Linked DNA regions of Homo sapiens: region 2 is linked to region 1. Evidence: fine-mapped expression QTL. A gene starts in region 1. The other region holds a variant in brackets. All regions are shown on one strand. Distances are from middle to middle.

Region 1 (8,332 bases):
TTCAATTTAGAATGGTAATCCAGAATCCATGGTTAGACCCAATTCAATCAATAACCAACTTAATGAAGGTTGGAAAAAGCCTTTTGAGTTTGCCTCATCCAGACTTCCATTTCACACATGAATCCTGTTTATCAGAAACAAAAGGTAGTATAGATTACCTGATGAGCAAGGAATATACCATCAACCAAGGCAGCCCATCTACCCTCTCTTTTAACAGCTCCATAGTTTCAGAGCATGCATGTTTTCGAATGTCTTGCTTTCTCTTTTCTCCCTGGCAAACATCTGTTTATCCTTCTAGAGCAGGGGTTGGCAAACTAGGGTCTGCAGGCCAAATCCAGCCCACCGTCTGCTTCCGTAGGGCCCATGATATGCAAATATTTTGTTGTATATTTTTACATTTTTCAATGTTTGCAAAGCAAATCTAAAGACTCCTTTGTGATATGTTAAAATTAATTGTAATTCACATTTCAGTGTAGTTTTATTAAAATACATTCATGCTTATTTGTTTACTTACCATCTATAAGTAGCAACAGCATTTGATGGTCCACAAAGCCTAAAACATTTACCATTTGGCCCTTTACTGACTTTATTCTACAGTGATGGTTCAAATGTTAACTCCTCTTAAAACCTTTCCAAAACCACCTCCCCCAACAGCTAGTTAGTCCTCTTCACCAGGTTTCCAAAGCATTTTGTCTTTTGTCATCATCCTCTGACCACCAGCCCATTTCATCCTATCTTTTTTTTTTTTTTTTTGAGATGGAGTCTCCTTCTGTCACCTAGGCTGGAGTGCAGTGGCGCGATCTCGGCTCACTGCAACCTCCGCCTCCCGGGTTCAAGCGATTCTCCTGCCTCAGCCTCCTGAGTAGCTGGGATTACAGGCACGTGCCACCACGCCCGGCTAATTTTTGTATTTTTAGTAGAGATGGGGTTTCACCATGTTGGTCAGGCTGGTCTTGAACACCTGACCTTGTGATCCACCCGCCTTGGGCTCCTGAAGTGCTGGGGTTACAGGCATGAGCCACCGCACCCAGCCTAATTCTATCTTTTACTTGTATTTCTCACCACATATCTCTTTTTGTTTGTTTTTCAAGACCCAGTTTCACTGCTGCCCAGGCTGGAGTGCAGTGGTGCGATCTCAGCTCACTGCAACCTCCACCTCCCAGGTTCAAGCGATTCTCGTGCCTCAGCCTCCAGAGTAGCTGGGATTACAGGCACACCATCACGCCCAACTAATTTTTGTACTGTTAATAGAGACGAGGTTTTGCCACGTTGGCCAGGCTGGTCTCGAACTCCTGACCTCGATTTTGGACTCCCAAAGTGCTGGGATTACAAGTATGAGCCACCACACCCGGCTTCTCACCACATATCTCAAGAGCAAAAACACTGTATCTAATTGGTCTTTGAAAATCACAGCCACTGTTAAAGTAGGTACCTACCATTTGTTCAATGAAATCAATGAAGAATGAAAGACAAGCTTACAATGATATTTGCCTTGAAATGCAGAATGAAGCAAAACAGTTACGGAAATTGTCATAATATAATTACTGTAGAGTAGCTCAAAACATCTACTCTCTCAGAACTATCAAAATACTACTTCACTTAAAGGCAGAACAATGACAAGTATACCTAAAATGTTACATGAAGTTACACAGGGAACATTAAGTGAAAGAGATTCCAGTAGACTATTTTAAAAGATTTTATTAGAGGAAATAATCTAGTAGATAACTTTCTTACTTCCACAAAAACAAAGTTTCTCAAGGATACAAACCAATGGATTTATCTGTGAACTCGGTCCCAGAATAGAAACTAGCAAAAAGTCAGTACAGTACTCAAAAAATACTTTTGTGGTATGAAAAAAGGGCAGGTGCAGATGTAGAACTGTACCATCTTCAGTTTCTGTTCACAATTGTTTTAAAACAATTCTCATCTATCCAGTCTGCTCTCCCACGCCTCAGATGAGGGAAGCCAATGGTCAATGCTCTGTGATAGCCCAAGTAGGATCCAATCTAGGTAATCCCTGTCCACCTTAGCTCTGTCCTCTGAGGGATTTGCCAGGTTGCACCACAATAGTTCTCCATTCTCTTTAGTCTGAACTTATGCTGTAAACCCAAGGCCTGGCACAGGGGTATGCAGGAAAGTTTGAGTGAATCAGTCACAACAGCTCTAGTACAGTACTGCATCGATATGCTCTGGAGACCTGCAGCCTATTTTTCCCAGAGAAATAAAGTGGAGTGGAGATCAGAAGCCATGGCTTCCCCCCTACCTCCTCTGGTCAGTGCAGGCTCTGGCTCAAATACTGAAGAAACATGTTGGCCAGTTGCGGCAAGTTCTCATTGTTGGGATGCATTTTAGTGTACGAAATAAACTGGCGACGAAGGCGACTCAGTTCTGCCATGGTCAAGGGCCGGGTAAACCGCAAGTGCTCTGTGGTACCAGGAAGCGTGAGCAAGTCCCCGGGGACAGCGCTCTTCTGCGCTTCCATCAATCCGGCCAGTACTTGACTCGTGACCTGGTCCAACTGGTGCAGAAAGCTGCCGGAGGCGAGGGGCTGGGACTGCGTAGACTGATGGGGTGGTGGGGCCCGGTTCTCAAACAGGGCAGAGCGGATCCCCGCCAGGGGCAACGGCTCCTCTAGGCCCACCAAAGTGAATAAAGGCCGGTCCCAGCGATTCCGAGAATCGGGAGCCTCAAAGCGCAGCGTTAGGGCCTCCAGGAGTTCGGGAGAGTAAAAGGCACCGGACCCATGCTTTGCAGATTTCTCTGAATCCGGAGTCACAAGAGCTGGAGACTCCGCAGCCCCGGATTCTTCTCGCTCCAGTTCCTTGGGTACGTCGGCCTGGGCACTTCCATTTACTACAGAGTCCGCAGTATGCAGTTCCCTGAGGACGCTGCTGCCCGCCGCCTGGGCTCTCCCGTCCTCCTCAGCGCGTGGCCGCCAACTCACACTGACGTTCCGGCCAGGGTTCTCGTTCGCGCCCGCCACCTGAGGTCCCGCGATCGGGCCGCCGGGCCGTACGCAGTAGACCAGGCAGAGCGGGGTGCGCGCCGCCCGTGCCAGGCAGTAGAGCTCGTAACGGAAACCTTTGATGTAGTTAAGCGAGTCCAGGATGACCACGTCGTGGCGACTCAGGCGCCGTTCCACGGAGGCTCGCAGAGCTCCACGCAATGCCTTCTCACGGGCAGAATCGCCGTACACCGCTGGGTCCTCTGCGCCCAGGACAGCTGCGTCGTCCACCACGTACACCGCGCGGCCCTCGGCAGCCAGCGCCACGCGCAACTCTTCAGCACGCCGGCTCTTGCCGCTGTACGGCAGCCCGCAAAACACCACGAGCGGCATCCTCTCAGGGAGCGACCATTGGCAACCGCGCTGCGCCAACTTCCGGGTTGTACGCGTCTCCGACGTAAGCCGGAAGTGCAAACTGCTCTTCCTGTCTCCCTTGACTTTTACAGACCCTCTTGTTTCTATGGAAACAGGAGTTCTACGCCAGCTAGGCCCAGGTTCAGCTTTCTCAGAAAGGAGATACAGAGACTATAATGGCATCAGTTATTTATGCCAAATGTTATAGGCCTCAGGAGAATGTGATCTTCCTGCAGCGAAAGACTGCCCGTCCATTTTATTAATAAGGCCTAAGGGGCATTAAATATTGTAAGCAATCAGCACTATATTTAGCATATAGAAGGCAATTAATAAATGCTGGTTCTCCTTCATTCCTCCTCTTAAACCTACTGGCTCTCAGTAAATGTTTATTCAATTACCATTTCAATCATTCAACATCTCCAAGGTTGGGAATTCAGAGATGAACATAAAACGCTTTCCCCACAAAAGATAAAAGGTCTGAATGGGAAGGATCAGGCGCCTACAATCAGAGTAATAAATACTATAATGGATAGATGCAGGTGAGGTTATAAAAGAACAGAAGGGAAAAACAAACTACCCAGAGAAATCACTGAAGACTTTATGTAGAAATAGTCATTTGACTTAGAACTTGAAAGACAAATAGGAATTTTTCTCCTTAGTAGGGTTGCCAGATAAAATACAGGATGCCCAGTTACATTTGAATTTCAGATAAACACCAAAAACATTTTTAAGCTTAAGTGTGTCCCAAATATTGCATAGACATATTTAAAATTATTTGGTGCTTATCTAAACTTCAAATTTAACTGGGCATCTTTAATTTATTATTATTATTTATTTTTTCTTTTTTAGAGATGAGGTTGTATGTTGCTAAGGCTGGTCTCAAACTCCTGGGCTCAAGTAATTGTGCCACCTCTGCCTCCCAAAGTACTGGGAATACAGGTGTGTGAGCCAAGGTGCCTGGCCTGCATCCTTTATTTTATTTTATTATTATTATTTTTTGAGATGGAGCCTCGCTCTGTCACCCAGCCTGGACCACAGTGGTATGATCTCAGCTCCCTGCAACCTCCACCTCCTGAGTTCAAGCGATTCTCCTGTCTCAGCCTCCCAAGTAGCTGGGACTATGGGTGTGCGCCACCATATCTGGCTAATTTTTGTATTTTTAGTAGAGACGGGGTTTCACTATGTTGGCCAGGCTGGTCTCAAACTCCTGACCCCAGGTGATCCACTGGCCTTGGCTTCCCAAAGTGCTGGGGTTAAAGGCATGAGCCACTGTGCCTGGCCATCCGTTATTTTTATTTGCTCAATCTGGCAACTCTATTATTGTAGGTTTGAGACCCAGAGCCATGAAACTGTTGGATCTCTTGTATAAACAGCAAGCACTATAGGATGGTAGGTGCAGAAATGTGAGTGTGCCTGTGCATGTGTGTATATTGTAGATGCACATATACTGGGGTCTTTGTATCTCTCTTGTACAGTATAGTAAAAAACATTCAAGTCTTGGCTCCTCCACTTACTAGTGTTGTAACTACTGGCAAATTATGTAACTTTTCTGTACTTCAATTTCCCCTTCTATAAAATAACAACTGCTATTTCACAGGTTTACCAATCTGTAGGTTGTTGTGAGGGTTAAATAAATGTAAACACAGGCCCGGCATGGTGGCTCGCGCCTGTAATCCCAGCACTTTGGGAGGCAGAGGGTAGATCACCTGAGGTCAGGAGCTCGAGACCAGTCTGGCCAACATGGTGAAACCCTGTCTCTACTAAAAATACTTTTTAAAAAATTAGTCGGGTGGGGTAGCGTGTGCCTGTAATCCCATTACTGAGGAGGCTGAGGCAGGAGAATTGCTTGAACCCGGGATGCGGAGGTTGCAGTGAGCCTAGATCGCACCACTGCACTCCAGCCTGGGCAATAAGAGCGAAACTCTGTCTCAAACAAAAAAAAAGTAAACACAGACCAGTGCTTAGCTTTCCCTCCCCTGCCCTGCCTTTTCCTCCTCCTTATGCACTGAATTGTCTGTGCATAAACTAAACCTACTTGAGACTTTACAGACTATTCAACTTGATTCTAGCAGGCAGTATGGTATACAGGTTTAAAGAGCAGGCTCTGAAGCCAGAGTGCTTGGGTCTGCCACTTGCTAGCTGTGTGCTCTTGGGCAAGTTATTTTAGTAAACTTAGAAAAAACGGTGCCTTACTTTTTTCATCTCTAAAATTAAGATAACAATAATACCAATCTCAAAAAGTTGTTGTGAGAGTTAAATGAGTTGATTTGCATAATTTAATGCCTAATGCACAGTAGCACTTAGTACAGCTGACCCTTGAACAACCCCAGGATGAGGGGCACTGACCCCTGACACCATCAAAAATCAGCATATACCTTTTGACTCCCTAAAACTTAACTATTAATAGCCTACTGTTGACTGGAAGCCTTACTAATAATATATTCAGTTAACACATATTTTGAATGTAATATTATATATTGTATTCTTACAATAAAGTAAACTAGAGAAAAGAAAATGTTATTAAGAAAATCTTTCCAGGAAGCAGGGGGGCAAAAAAGAAGAAAAAGAAAATCATAAAGAAGCAAAAATATATTTAGTATTCATTAAGTGGAAATGGATACTCATAAAGGTCTTCATCCTTGTCTTCACACTGAGTAGGCTGAGGAGGAGGAGGAAGAGGAAGAGGAGAGGTTGGTCTTGCTGTCTCAGGATGGCAGAGGCAGAAGAGGGTGGAAGGGGAGGTAGAACAGGCAGGCACACTTGGTGTAACTTTATGGAAATATAATTTCTGTCTGATTTTGTTGCTTTTTCATTTCTCTAAAAATGTTTCTATACAATACCAATCTTTTTTCTTTGCTTTAGTTTCAGGGCACATATCTTAGAAGGGTCCATGTTGTAAAATAAGTCAAAAGCAGCTCTAAATAATTAGAACCTTCTGCCAGATCTGTTTTCTGGCACTGCCTCTTCTACGTGTTTTTCCTCATCATCTGGCACTCATCTCCATCAAGTTATCTTCTGTTCATTCCTCTGGTTTGGTGTCTATTAGCTCTTGAATTTATCCAAGATCATATCTTAAAACCCTTTACCCCTCACCTTTTTTTGCCATATCCACAATCTCTTTCATGATTTTGATTATCTGTCATAAACCCTGTGAAGTCTTGTGTACATCTGGACACAGTTTTATCCAGCAGGAATTTATTGTTTCAGGCTTGATGGTCTTCACAGCTATTTCTATAACGACAATGGCATCTTCAACGATATAATCCTCCTAAACTTTCATGATGTTCTCTTTATTGCAGTTCTCTTCCATAGCTTTGACAATCTGTTTTCTAGAGAGTACTGTGTGTAATGAACCTTAAAGGTCCTTATCACCCCCTGATGTAGTAGCTGATTTAAATATTGTGTTTGGAGGCAAATAGACCACCTTTTTTTTTTTTTTTTTTTTTTGAGACAGAATTTCACTCTTGTTGCCTAGGCTGGAATGCAATGGCACGATCTCAGCTCACTGCAACCTCCACCTCCCAGGTTCAAGCAATTCTCCTGCCTCAGCCTCCTGATTAGCTGGGATTACAGGCATGTGCCACCACGCCCGGCGAATTTTGTATTTTTAGTAGAGACTGGGTTTCTCCGTGTTGGTCAGGCTGGTCTGGAACTCCCAACTTCAGGTGATCCCCCGACCTCGGCCTCCCAAGTGCTGGGATTACAGGCATGAGCCACTGGGCCCAGCCGCAAATAGACTTTTTAATTTGCCTTTGGTGCTGAACTCATGGGGCTCTGGGTGGCCAGAGTATTGTCCAACATCAAAAGAACTTTAAAAGGTAGTCTCTTACTGGCAAGGTACTTCCTGACTTCAGGGACAAAGCATTGATGGAACCAATCCAGAAAAAGGGTTCTTGTTGTCTAAGCCTTCTTATTGCACAACCTAAACACTGGCAGCTGGTGTTTATCTTTGCTCTTCGAGGCTGGAGGTTAACAGCTTTATAGACAAGGGCAGTTCTGATGACAAACTTGACTCAAACTCCTGGGCTCTGGTAATCGTCCCACCTCTGCCTCCCAAAGTGCTGGGTTTTTTTGCACAAAAGAGTAGAGTTAGCCTGTCTCTTCTTGCCTTCAATGTTGGTACTTGCTTCTCTTCCTATTTTTTTTTTTCCTTTTTAAAAACTGAAATAGGGTCTTATTCTGTTGCCCAGGCTACAGTTCAGTGGTGCACTCATGGCTAACTGCAGCCTCAATCTTCCAGGCTCAAGCAATCCTCCCACCTCAGACTCCTGAGTAGCAGGAACAACAGGTGTGTGCCACCACACCCAGCTAATTTTTGTACTTTTTGTAGAGACAGAGTTTCCCATGTTGCCCAGGTTGGTCTTCCTTACTATTAATGTCCTTTGTGGCTTTTTTTTTCCAGAGTAGGGTACCTTAATCTGCATTAAACACCTGTTCAGGCAGATATCCTTTCTCTTCAATGATTTTCTTAACGGTGTCTGAGAATTCATCTGCTGCCTCTTGGTCAGCATAAGCTGCTTCTCCTGTATCTTGTTTTTTTTTTTTTTGAGACAGGGTCTCACTCTGTCACCCAGGCTGGAGTGCAGTGGGGGGATCTCGGCTCATGCAACCTCCGCCTCCCAGGCTCAAGCGATTCTCCTGCCTCAGCCTCCCAAGTAGCTGGGATTATAGGCATGGACCACTACCACCTAGCTAGTTTTTGTATTTTTTGTAGAGACGGGGTTTCACCATGTTGGCCAGGCTGGTCATAAACTCTTGACCTCAAATGATCCACCCGCCTTGGACTGCCAAAGTGCTGGGATTACGGGCAACACTGCGCCCAGCCTGTCTTGACATTTTTTAAGCCAAACCTCTTTCTAAAATCAGCAAACCATCATTTGTTGTCATTAAATACTCCAGCTTTAGATCCTTCACCTTCTTTTTGCTTTAAGTTGCCATATAATGACTTTGCTTTTTCTCAAATCATATTAGAGT
Region 2 (8,332 bases), 20 kb after region 1:
AACATCCATTCCCCAGCACCACTAACACTCCCACCTGTGCCAACATGGAACATCTGAAGGCAGTCCAATTTCCTAAAGTGTCACCTGTATAGCCACTTAATTTATGCCAGTTATCTGCAAAGTAAAGTCTCCCACATCAGCAACTCTTACCCTATAACATTAATTTTTTAAAAAAGAAAAGCAACCATTTCTAAACACAGCATTCAATCAGAATTTTCAATCCCTTCATCCAAAAATTGTTTTAATGAATGTAAGCTAAAGACATCTGAAAAGTATTATCCACCCCCTCCTAGCTGATGAAACCTAAATAACAAAAGGTCAAGCATCAGAGCTGGCAGCCAAGCCTCTGAAACAGGGAACACTGTACCTGAGACATAGAACATAGTGGCTAAATACTGATTGTCTCAGTCAAACAGACCTGCATTAGAATTCTTGTTCAGCCACTTACCATTTTCATAAATGCAAACTATGGCTAACAAAAACATGTATCCCATAGGCTGTTGTGAATGTGAGTAGAACACTGTGTGGGAGGTAAACACACTTCATATGTGTTAGTGCCAAATTTTTATTCCAGAGACTTGACAAAGTTATCCATTTTTGTTTCAGGCAGAAGAGCACAAGAACCACTCCCAATGACAGCTTTCTAGTTTCTCCTTTAAACTTTAGAGGAGTTTCTGCACTGAGAGACTGGAATGGTATGCTGGTTAAGGGCACTGGCTCTGGGATTTGTATTCCAGCTAGTCCACTGGACTCCTTTGCCTCATTTGAGGTTTTTTCATCTGTTAAGTGGGAATAATGATAAAAACATTGTCCATCTCATAGGGTTATTATGAGGCTTAGTCAATACATGAAAAATGCACACAACAGCACCTGGAGGATAGTAAATGTACAGTAAATATTGGTCACTACTTCTCCCCATGGGTGATGTACTCCAAATTTTTAGTCCATGGAGAACAATGTAATTATTTTGGAACTCTATAGAACGTTAGAGCTGGAAGAGATCTTAGGAAGTACTTCTAGTACAACTTTCTCATTGATTAATTGGTTGTCACGTAGGACCAGAACTAAATGGCCTGATCAGGATTACAATCCAGGCCTCCTAATTTATTTATTTATTTTTTTTGAGACAGAGTATCACTCTGTTGCCCAGGCTGGAGTGCAGTGGCACTATCTTGGCTCACTGCAACCTCCGCCTCCCAGGTTCAAGCAATTCTCCTGCCTCAGCCTCCCGAGTAGCTAGGATTACAGGCGTGTGCCACCACGCCTGGCTAATTTTTGTATTTTTTTTAGTAGAGATGGGGTTTCGCCATGTTGGCCAGGCTGGTCTTGAACTCCTGACCTCAGGTGATTGACCTGCCTCAGCCTCCCAAAGTGCTGGGATAACAGGCATGAGCCACCGTGCCCAGCCTGGGCCTTCTAATTTCTATTTAGTGCTAAGTCCACATCACTGTGCTGCTTCTTCTTAATGAAAACAGTAGAGATCATTCAGTCTCTCCTCTCTGTAAACCACCAGGCCATCGTCCGGAAACATCTGGGAAGAAATCCATCTCATTAAGACTTTCAGCAACCATTGCCTCAGGTAGCACTTTTTTGGAAGGTAGGGTAAGTGGGGTATAATCTACTTCCCAAGAATCCATACCCAAGAGATACATAAAACAAAAGTTTGAAATAGTATTAATTCCTTTTAGGGATTATTATTATTATTTCCATGGGGGAAATAATACTGGTTAATGTTTATTAAATATTTTCTAAGTGTCCGACACAATATTAAGTGCCTTTTGTTTTTTGATTGAATCCTCCCAACCCAGCCCCACTGCCCTAAGCTGCCCTTCTATGTGCTCCTGCAGCTACCTGGTATTTCTCTGCTTAAAGCACATATCATGCTGCCATGTAACTGTCTGCTTACTTGTCTTGGTATCTTACCAGACTGCAAGCTGAAAAAGGACAGGAATCACAATTATCATGTTTATCATTCATTTCCTCTTTCAACAAATATTCCTGAGCATGAACAAGACAGAAATAGTCCTGGTTCACTGTGGCAGATATGCCCTTCTTACAATGTGACCTCAACATACCTCCCATTGGGGGTGAGGGTGGGGGTCCTAATATTCCATTCCCTTGAATCTGCCCCTACAGGGTACTGTGGAAGTGATGCTATGTGCCTTGTAAGGCTAGGTGACAAAAATGCCATGCATTTCCACCTTGTTCTCTTATGGCACGCACTCTTGGAATCCAGCCTCCCATAAAGCTACTGTGAGGAAACCCATAGGAGCCCATGCGGAAAGATCACATGGAGAGGTAACCAGCTTAGCCAAGGCCCCAGTCATCATAGAACAGGGACAAGCCTTTCCCAGTGTGCCTTGTTTGAATTCCTTACTCACACAATTGTGAGCATAATAAAATGATTTCTTCATGCCCACTAAATTTTGGAGTGATTTATTACACAACAATGGTAACTGGAACAACCACACAAAGCTTAATATCTAACAAGGAATAAAAATACAAAATACCTGATTCCAAGGTATTACCTACACCTAACACAGTAACTTGAACAGAGCAAATTATTTGTTGAGTGTCTGAGGTAGTTATGATGCCCATTTTGCAGATGAGGAACGGAGGCTTTGAGAGTTAAGAAACTTGCCCAAGGCTACTCAGCTAGTGAGTGGCAGAACAAATTAAAACTCAGATCTAGGCCTGGCGCAGTGGCTCCCGCCTATAATCCCAATACTTTGGGAGGCCAAGGAGGGAGGATTACCTGAGGTCAGGAGTTTGAGATCAGCCTGGCCAACATGGTGAAACTCCATCTCTACTAAAAATACAAAAAAATACAAAAAAAAAAAAAATTAGCTGGGCATAGTGGCACATGCCTGTAGTCCCAGCTACTTGGGAGGCTGAGGCAGGAGAATCATTTGAACCCGGGAGGCAGAAGTTGCAGTAAGCCGAGATTGCACCACTCCACTCCAGCCTGGCAGAGTGAGACTCCGTCTCAAAAACAAAAGCAAACAAACAAACAGAAAAAACAGCAAAGAAAAAACTCAGATCTAAACCCACGTACCCAACACTCTACTCTTCTGTTACTCTCAGTACTTACAACTTTAAATATACAGTAGCTGGCTGGGCGCAGTGGCTCATGCCTGTAATCCCAGCACTTTGGGAGGCCGAGGCGGGCAGATCATGAGGTCAGGAGTTTGAGACCAGCCTTGCCAACATAGTGAAACCCCGTCTCTACTAAAAATACAAAAAATTAGCCAGACGTGGTGGCAGGCACCTGTAATCCCAGCTACTCGGGAGGCTAAGGCAGGAGAATCGCTTGAACCCAGGAGGCGGAGGTTGCAGTGAGCCAAGATCATGCCACTGGACTCCAGCCCGAGCAACAGTGTGAGACTCTGTCTAAAAAACAAAACAAAACAACAACAAAAAAAAACGGTAGTCTGTTTTAAAATGGGATTGTCAGTATTTAAAACATTCTGGCCTAACAGGATTTGTCATGCAGTTTCATCACTGAGATGGAAACCCACATATCACCTTCTCCAAAAAGCTTCTCCTGACCTTCATAATTCAAGTGATGCCAGCTCCACCAACCTCCCCAGCCTTTCTACTTCCTATTCCATCACAGTCTTATTGTTTTCCCAGCACTTGTTCCTAGTTGAAACTGTCTTATTAATTTGTTCATGAGTCTACTCTGTCTCTCTGACATGAATATAAGCTCCACCAGAGTAGGAACCTTGTCTGTCCTGTTTACAGCTATATCCCTAGTGCCTAGGACAGTGCCTGAAATATAGGAGGTGATCAAAAATTATTTACGGAATGAAGGAATGATTGCATTCAGGCAAAATGAATGCCCACCCAATCTTATTACTCACCAATAGATGTGAAAATAGAGAGGATAAGAGAAAACAAAAACAGAAGGATTGCAGCAGAATCATTCCATACAGTAAGGTCAGTGAAAAAAAAAAAAGGAAGAGGGGTTGGGATCCATGCTACAATTCATCTACTTAGAAAAGCATAAACTCTGAGTTCACAGACTGTCAGTCCAACTTTCAACTAAGTAAGGGCTGATGAGGAGAGAGGTGTTAAAACTTAGAATGGAGATGTAGGTAATGGATGGAGTAGGGGGCCACACCTCCTAACCTCCATTCATAACCACTGATCGCTCACTTACAAAAAAACTTCGCTGAACCACAGCAAGGACAATTGTTGGGGACCCTTAAACAGCAGACCTTCTACCATTCGCTTGGCTCTTCTTATGCACTAGATACAGCTACCTGGGATGCAGGTGCTGTTTCCCAAAGGCAAGCAAGTGGCAGTAACCTAGCTCTTCGCGGAAGAAGTAACGAGAGAAATCTTCAGACCCAGAACAGGGTCCTCTGCATATGCAGGTCCCCAACGGCTCTATTTCTCCCAGGTGGGAAGGTGACCGTTCCTCAGGACCTCCCAAGTGCTAGGCACTATGCTGGGCTCTTAACATGCTTTCCTTAATTTACGGGCCATTCCTTCCCCCCAATCCAATAATTTAGAGAGGCCTCAAGTACAACTTCTCCATTCCCCAGACCCGCTACTCTCTACCCCAAGAAATCTTCAAACTCCAGGAGCGGTTGGGGAAGATAAAAAGAAATCTGGAGTGGCCTAAGAGTTAGAATGGGAGGGGAACGGTGCTAGGGCAAGAAGAGATTATACTGGGATCAGTATAGTAAAGATCAGTAAAGAGAAGATAAGAACGCGGTCTGACCCTTTCCAAGCCCATTATGTCCATCAGAAGAGATGACGAGGAGCAGGAAACTGAAGCCCAGCAAACAGGTGGCCCCGAGACGAGGCCGCGTCTCCATGGCAGTAGGTGCGCGGGGCCACGGGGCTGAGCGGACGCAGGGCCGGAGTCCCAGCAGACGGTCCACACAGTTCGCCGAGCGCCGCTCAG[CACA/C]ACACCTCTACTTCCCAGATTTTTTTTTTTCAAACTCTGAAGGAAGTGATGTTAGACGGATGTGGGTGGTGCCTCCGGGGTCCGGTTTGGGATGGAGTGAGCTTAAAGGTGCAGATCACGTAGAAGGGTACGAGAGCTGTTCTCGAGCGCGAGTTGCTTTTCGTGGATTCTGGGTGTCCAGGTCCCGGGACGGAGCGGGAAAATGTAGGCCAAGATAGTAGGGGCGGGGGAGAGGTTCGGGAGAACCGTTGCTCCTCGCGTCCGCCACCCAGTCCAGCCCCTCCCCCCAAGAACCGCTGCACTTCCTAGTCAAAAGCAAATTATTGATTCGTGAGGTCAGTCGCTCCCAACAGTGGGCGGATTGCCCACTGGCCTCGGATTCTCCTTACCCCTCCACAAATCAAGACTGGACAACTGGATTTCATTGTTAGGTTCCTGCGAGGGTCTCTGAGGAGACCTGGCAAGCCTGTTCTGCGGTGCGTGGGCTCGTGCCGTGCAGACATGCACTTTCCCGCTGGAGAAGCTCTGTACCTTATTTTTCCTTGCAACCGCAAATCTTCTACTCAGGGATGATGCAACCAACTGATGCAAGCTCCAAGAAAACCAAACTTGGGACCTCTTATTGCAAAACTGACTTAGGTGGACTTAGGACACCAGGATATAAGTCACTGCAGGCTAAAGTGTAAAGCTTCTGGTTATTTTTCTTGTAGCTTGAGGATTTCTTCCCAATTTTTCCCCTTCGCTGTATAACAAACAGGTGAAAATGTCCGGTCTTTTTCTTCCTGGTACTAGTTGAGTCCTAAAGTCCGTACTTAATGCATAGCGAAAAAGCGACCTAACAAAAGTACACACCCAAATAAAAACATACCGACCACCCTTTTATTAGGTTCCCTAAAATTGTAGGCAGGGACACAACAGAACGCTCGGGAGACTGCAAGCCCCAGGATGCCGCGCGGCCACCTGCACCTGCCGCCACTAGCACTAAGAGGGATGCGCAAAGCAGGCGGGGCGTTGGAGTTCAGATGTTCGCTCCCGGGATAGGCTGCCCCGGAGAGGGAGAGGCGGGGTCGGCTGTATCACGTGGATCTGCTCCCGCCGCCGCCGCCGCCGCCGTCGTCTTTCTCTGTCTCGGCTGAGGCAGCCATCTTTCTCTTGCCGCGTGCTGGTGTTGGAGGACCCTCCCTGCTTCAGGTGAGACCCCCGGCGGTCCCGCCACTTCACGGCCATAGGCCGCTGCGCACGGTCTCCCCCCGCCCTCCCCTTCCGACACCCGCCAACCGCTCAGGCTGCCACTTCCGCCGTGGTGCGGCGAGCGGGGGCGGAGGCGGCTGGCTTGGCCTGTCGGTTACCGGCGGCGCAGCTGGGGGTCGGCACCTGTGGGAAGGTCCCCAGCACCACCGCCCCCTGTGGGAGCGAGCGGGCCCGCCCTGTTGCCGCCCAGACCCTGTCCCAGGAGGCAGGTGGACGCCCCTCCTCTGTTCCATTACTCCTTGCTCACAACAGCAGTGTTGTGTGCTTTGAGCTTTATACAGGCTCTCTGTTGTCATCTCATTTGATGCTCCCAGTCTACAGATAGGGAAGCTGAGGTTACCACTTCCCGCCCTTGAGTCCAGGGAACCGAACTCAGTTACAGCACTCTTCACCTTGTAATGGCAGTGTTTGTTTACAAGTCGGCGTCCCTTGCCCATCTTTATAACCCCCCTCCCACTGCCTGCTGACCGACAGGCTCAGTGTTGCACAGCTAGTGAATGGCGGTTTCAACTTCCGTTCCCACATTCTTGCAGTTTACCATAGTTGTCCCCTCGGGAGTGGTAACAATAGTTACCAGTAACTGTGTATCTTCTGTGAACCATTCCCTGTGGTTGATAATGTTTTAACCCTCAAAACAACCCTGTGAAGTACGTGGTGTTATACCTTTCCAAATGCAGGAGGAATACAAGTTCAGAGAAGAAAAATACCTTTCCCAACTGGTAGAACCTTGGTCTTTCTGATTCCAAAGCCTGTGCTTGTCTTAGAGAAACCCTACATAATAAAAAGTCAGGACTCAAGGTTGCAATTATTTTTATCTCTGTGTAAACATGATGTATGTGAAAGTGCCTACCACAATGCTTCTAACTTAGGCACTTAATAAATATAAACCTGTTTACACCCTTTCTTGAGTCCTTGAGAACAGTGCTAAAAGATCCTGGAATCCCCAAGGAAGAACTCATTAATCATGTGGCTTTAGGAAGTTACTTCTCCCTTTTGGGCCTAGGAAGGGACTTCTCCCTTCTGGGCCCTTATTTCCTAATCTATTAAGATGGGAGGGAGGGAACTGTTTCGTTTGTAATTTATACTTTGCTGGTGCTAGCAGATGTTGAGATGACATCACAGATAGGAATGATGGGTGCAATAAAGTAGAGGTTGATTGAGAATAGAGAATTAAACCAGGTGATCTTGGAGGTCTACTCCAGATTCTGAGCTTGACATCGCATAGACTGAGTCCAGTCCTCTTTCCTACTTGAATTCCACACACCACAACTTGCCAAGAAACAAAAGACTACTCTTGTTCCTCCCCTACTGCCTTGAGCTCTCAGTCTCCCTAAAATCATTTTTCTCTGAGATACTCCTTAGGAACAAAATTTCTCAATTCTGTTGTCCTGACCACCTGGAATGGAATCTGTTCTTTCATCTATACCTTGATTTGAAGAGTTAATTTTGTTCTTGCTTTTATTTCAAACAAGTCAAGACTTTGTCTTGGCATCCCAACCTCTGTCTGTTCTCTTGGGAATTGTTACTTCAAAATGCAGAAGAATCCCAAAGGGTTTACCAAGTATCTAGGTCTAATGTTTTTCCTTAGCCCCTTTTTTTTTGCAATAAATTCCTTTGGCTCTTTGTTAGTTCACTACACTCTCATGGCCACATTCCTTTGAGAAAAGTGAATGTTGGTCCTTTTCTGTGGATATTTGAGCATAGGAATTGGGATTTAAGTCATCAAATTTAAGTCTATGGCAGAGCTAAGATTGGCACACATTTAAGACTTCTTGTTTTGGACTCTAAACACACTTCCTCCTATAAAAGTGTTTTTAGCTGCTTCAGCATTGTGATACAGCGCTGAGCAGAGTGAAGAATCATAAATTCTAAATATTATTTGGGATCTGGACATTAGCCTTAAAGAAGAGATAGATATATAGGTTATTGCCTAAGGATAGTGTCAAAGTACAAAATGGTTAGTAATTATATAGTCTTTGATGCTGCTTTTTTTAATCTCTCAAATGAAGCAAACAGTATTTTTTTCATGTGAATGATGACTATACAGGGTTTAGAGAATTGGCCAAAGAAGATTTGATAACAACCTAGTCCCTTATTCCCTCCCTCACATCTCAGTAATGATTTGTTGATCTGCAGAACAAGTAAAACAAGACTTTTAATTTG

The links.
Region 2: its variant is fine-mapped to the expression of KTI12 in whole blood (TOPMed, PIP above 0.99).

The regions. Positions count from the first base shown.
Region 1 is chr1:52,030,425-52,038,756 of GRCh38, forward strand. It overlaps KTI12 (KTI12 chromatin associated homolog), which reads right to left and starts at 3,386. Exons shown (of 1, transcript NM_138417.3): 1 at 1,679-3,386. The coding sequence starts at 3,337. The coding sequence ends at 2,273. The region is part of intron 2 of TXNDC12 (thioredoxin domain containing 12); the gene reads right to left. RefSeq lists an enhancer at 3,093-3,392.
Region 2 is chr1:52,050,271-52,058,602 of GRCh38, forward strand. TXNDC12 (thioredoxin domain containing 12) reads right to left here and starts at 4,921. Exons shown (of 7, transcript NM_015913.4): 1 at 4,730-4,921. The coding sequence starts at 4,826. BTF3L4 (basic transcription factor 3 like 4) reads left to right here and starts at 6,025. Exons shown (of 6, transcript NM_152265.5): 1 at 6,025-6,109. It overlaps TXNDC12-AS1 (TXNDC12 antisense RNA 1), which reads left to right and starts at 648. Exons shown (of 3, transcript NR_126385.1): 1 at 648-695; 2 at 1,514-1,579; 3 at 2,137-2,413. RefSeq lists silencers at 4,945-5,349, 6,210-6,449 and enhancers at 5,515-6,228, 6,229-6,940. The variant CACA/C (reference allele first, on the strand shown) is at 4,916.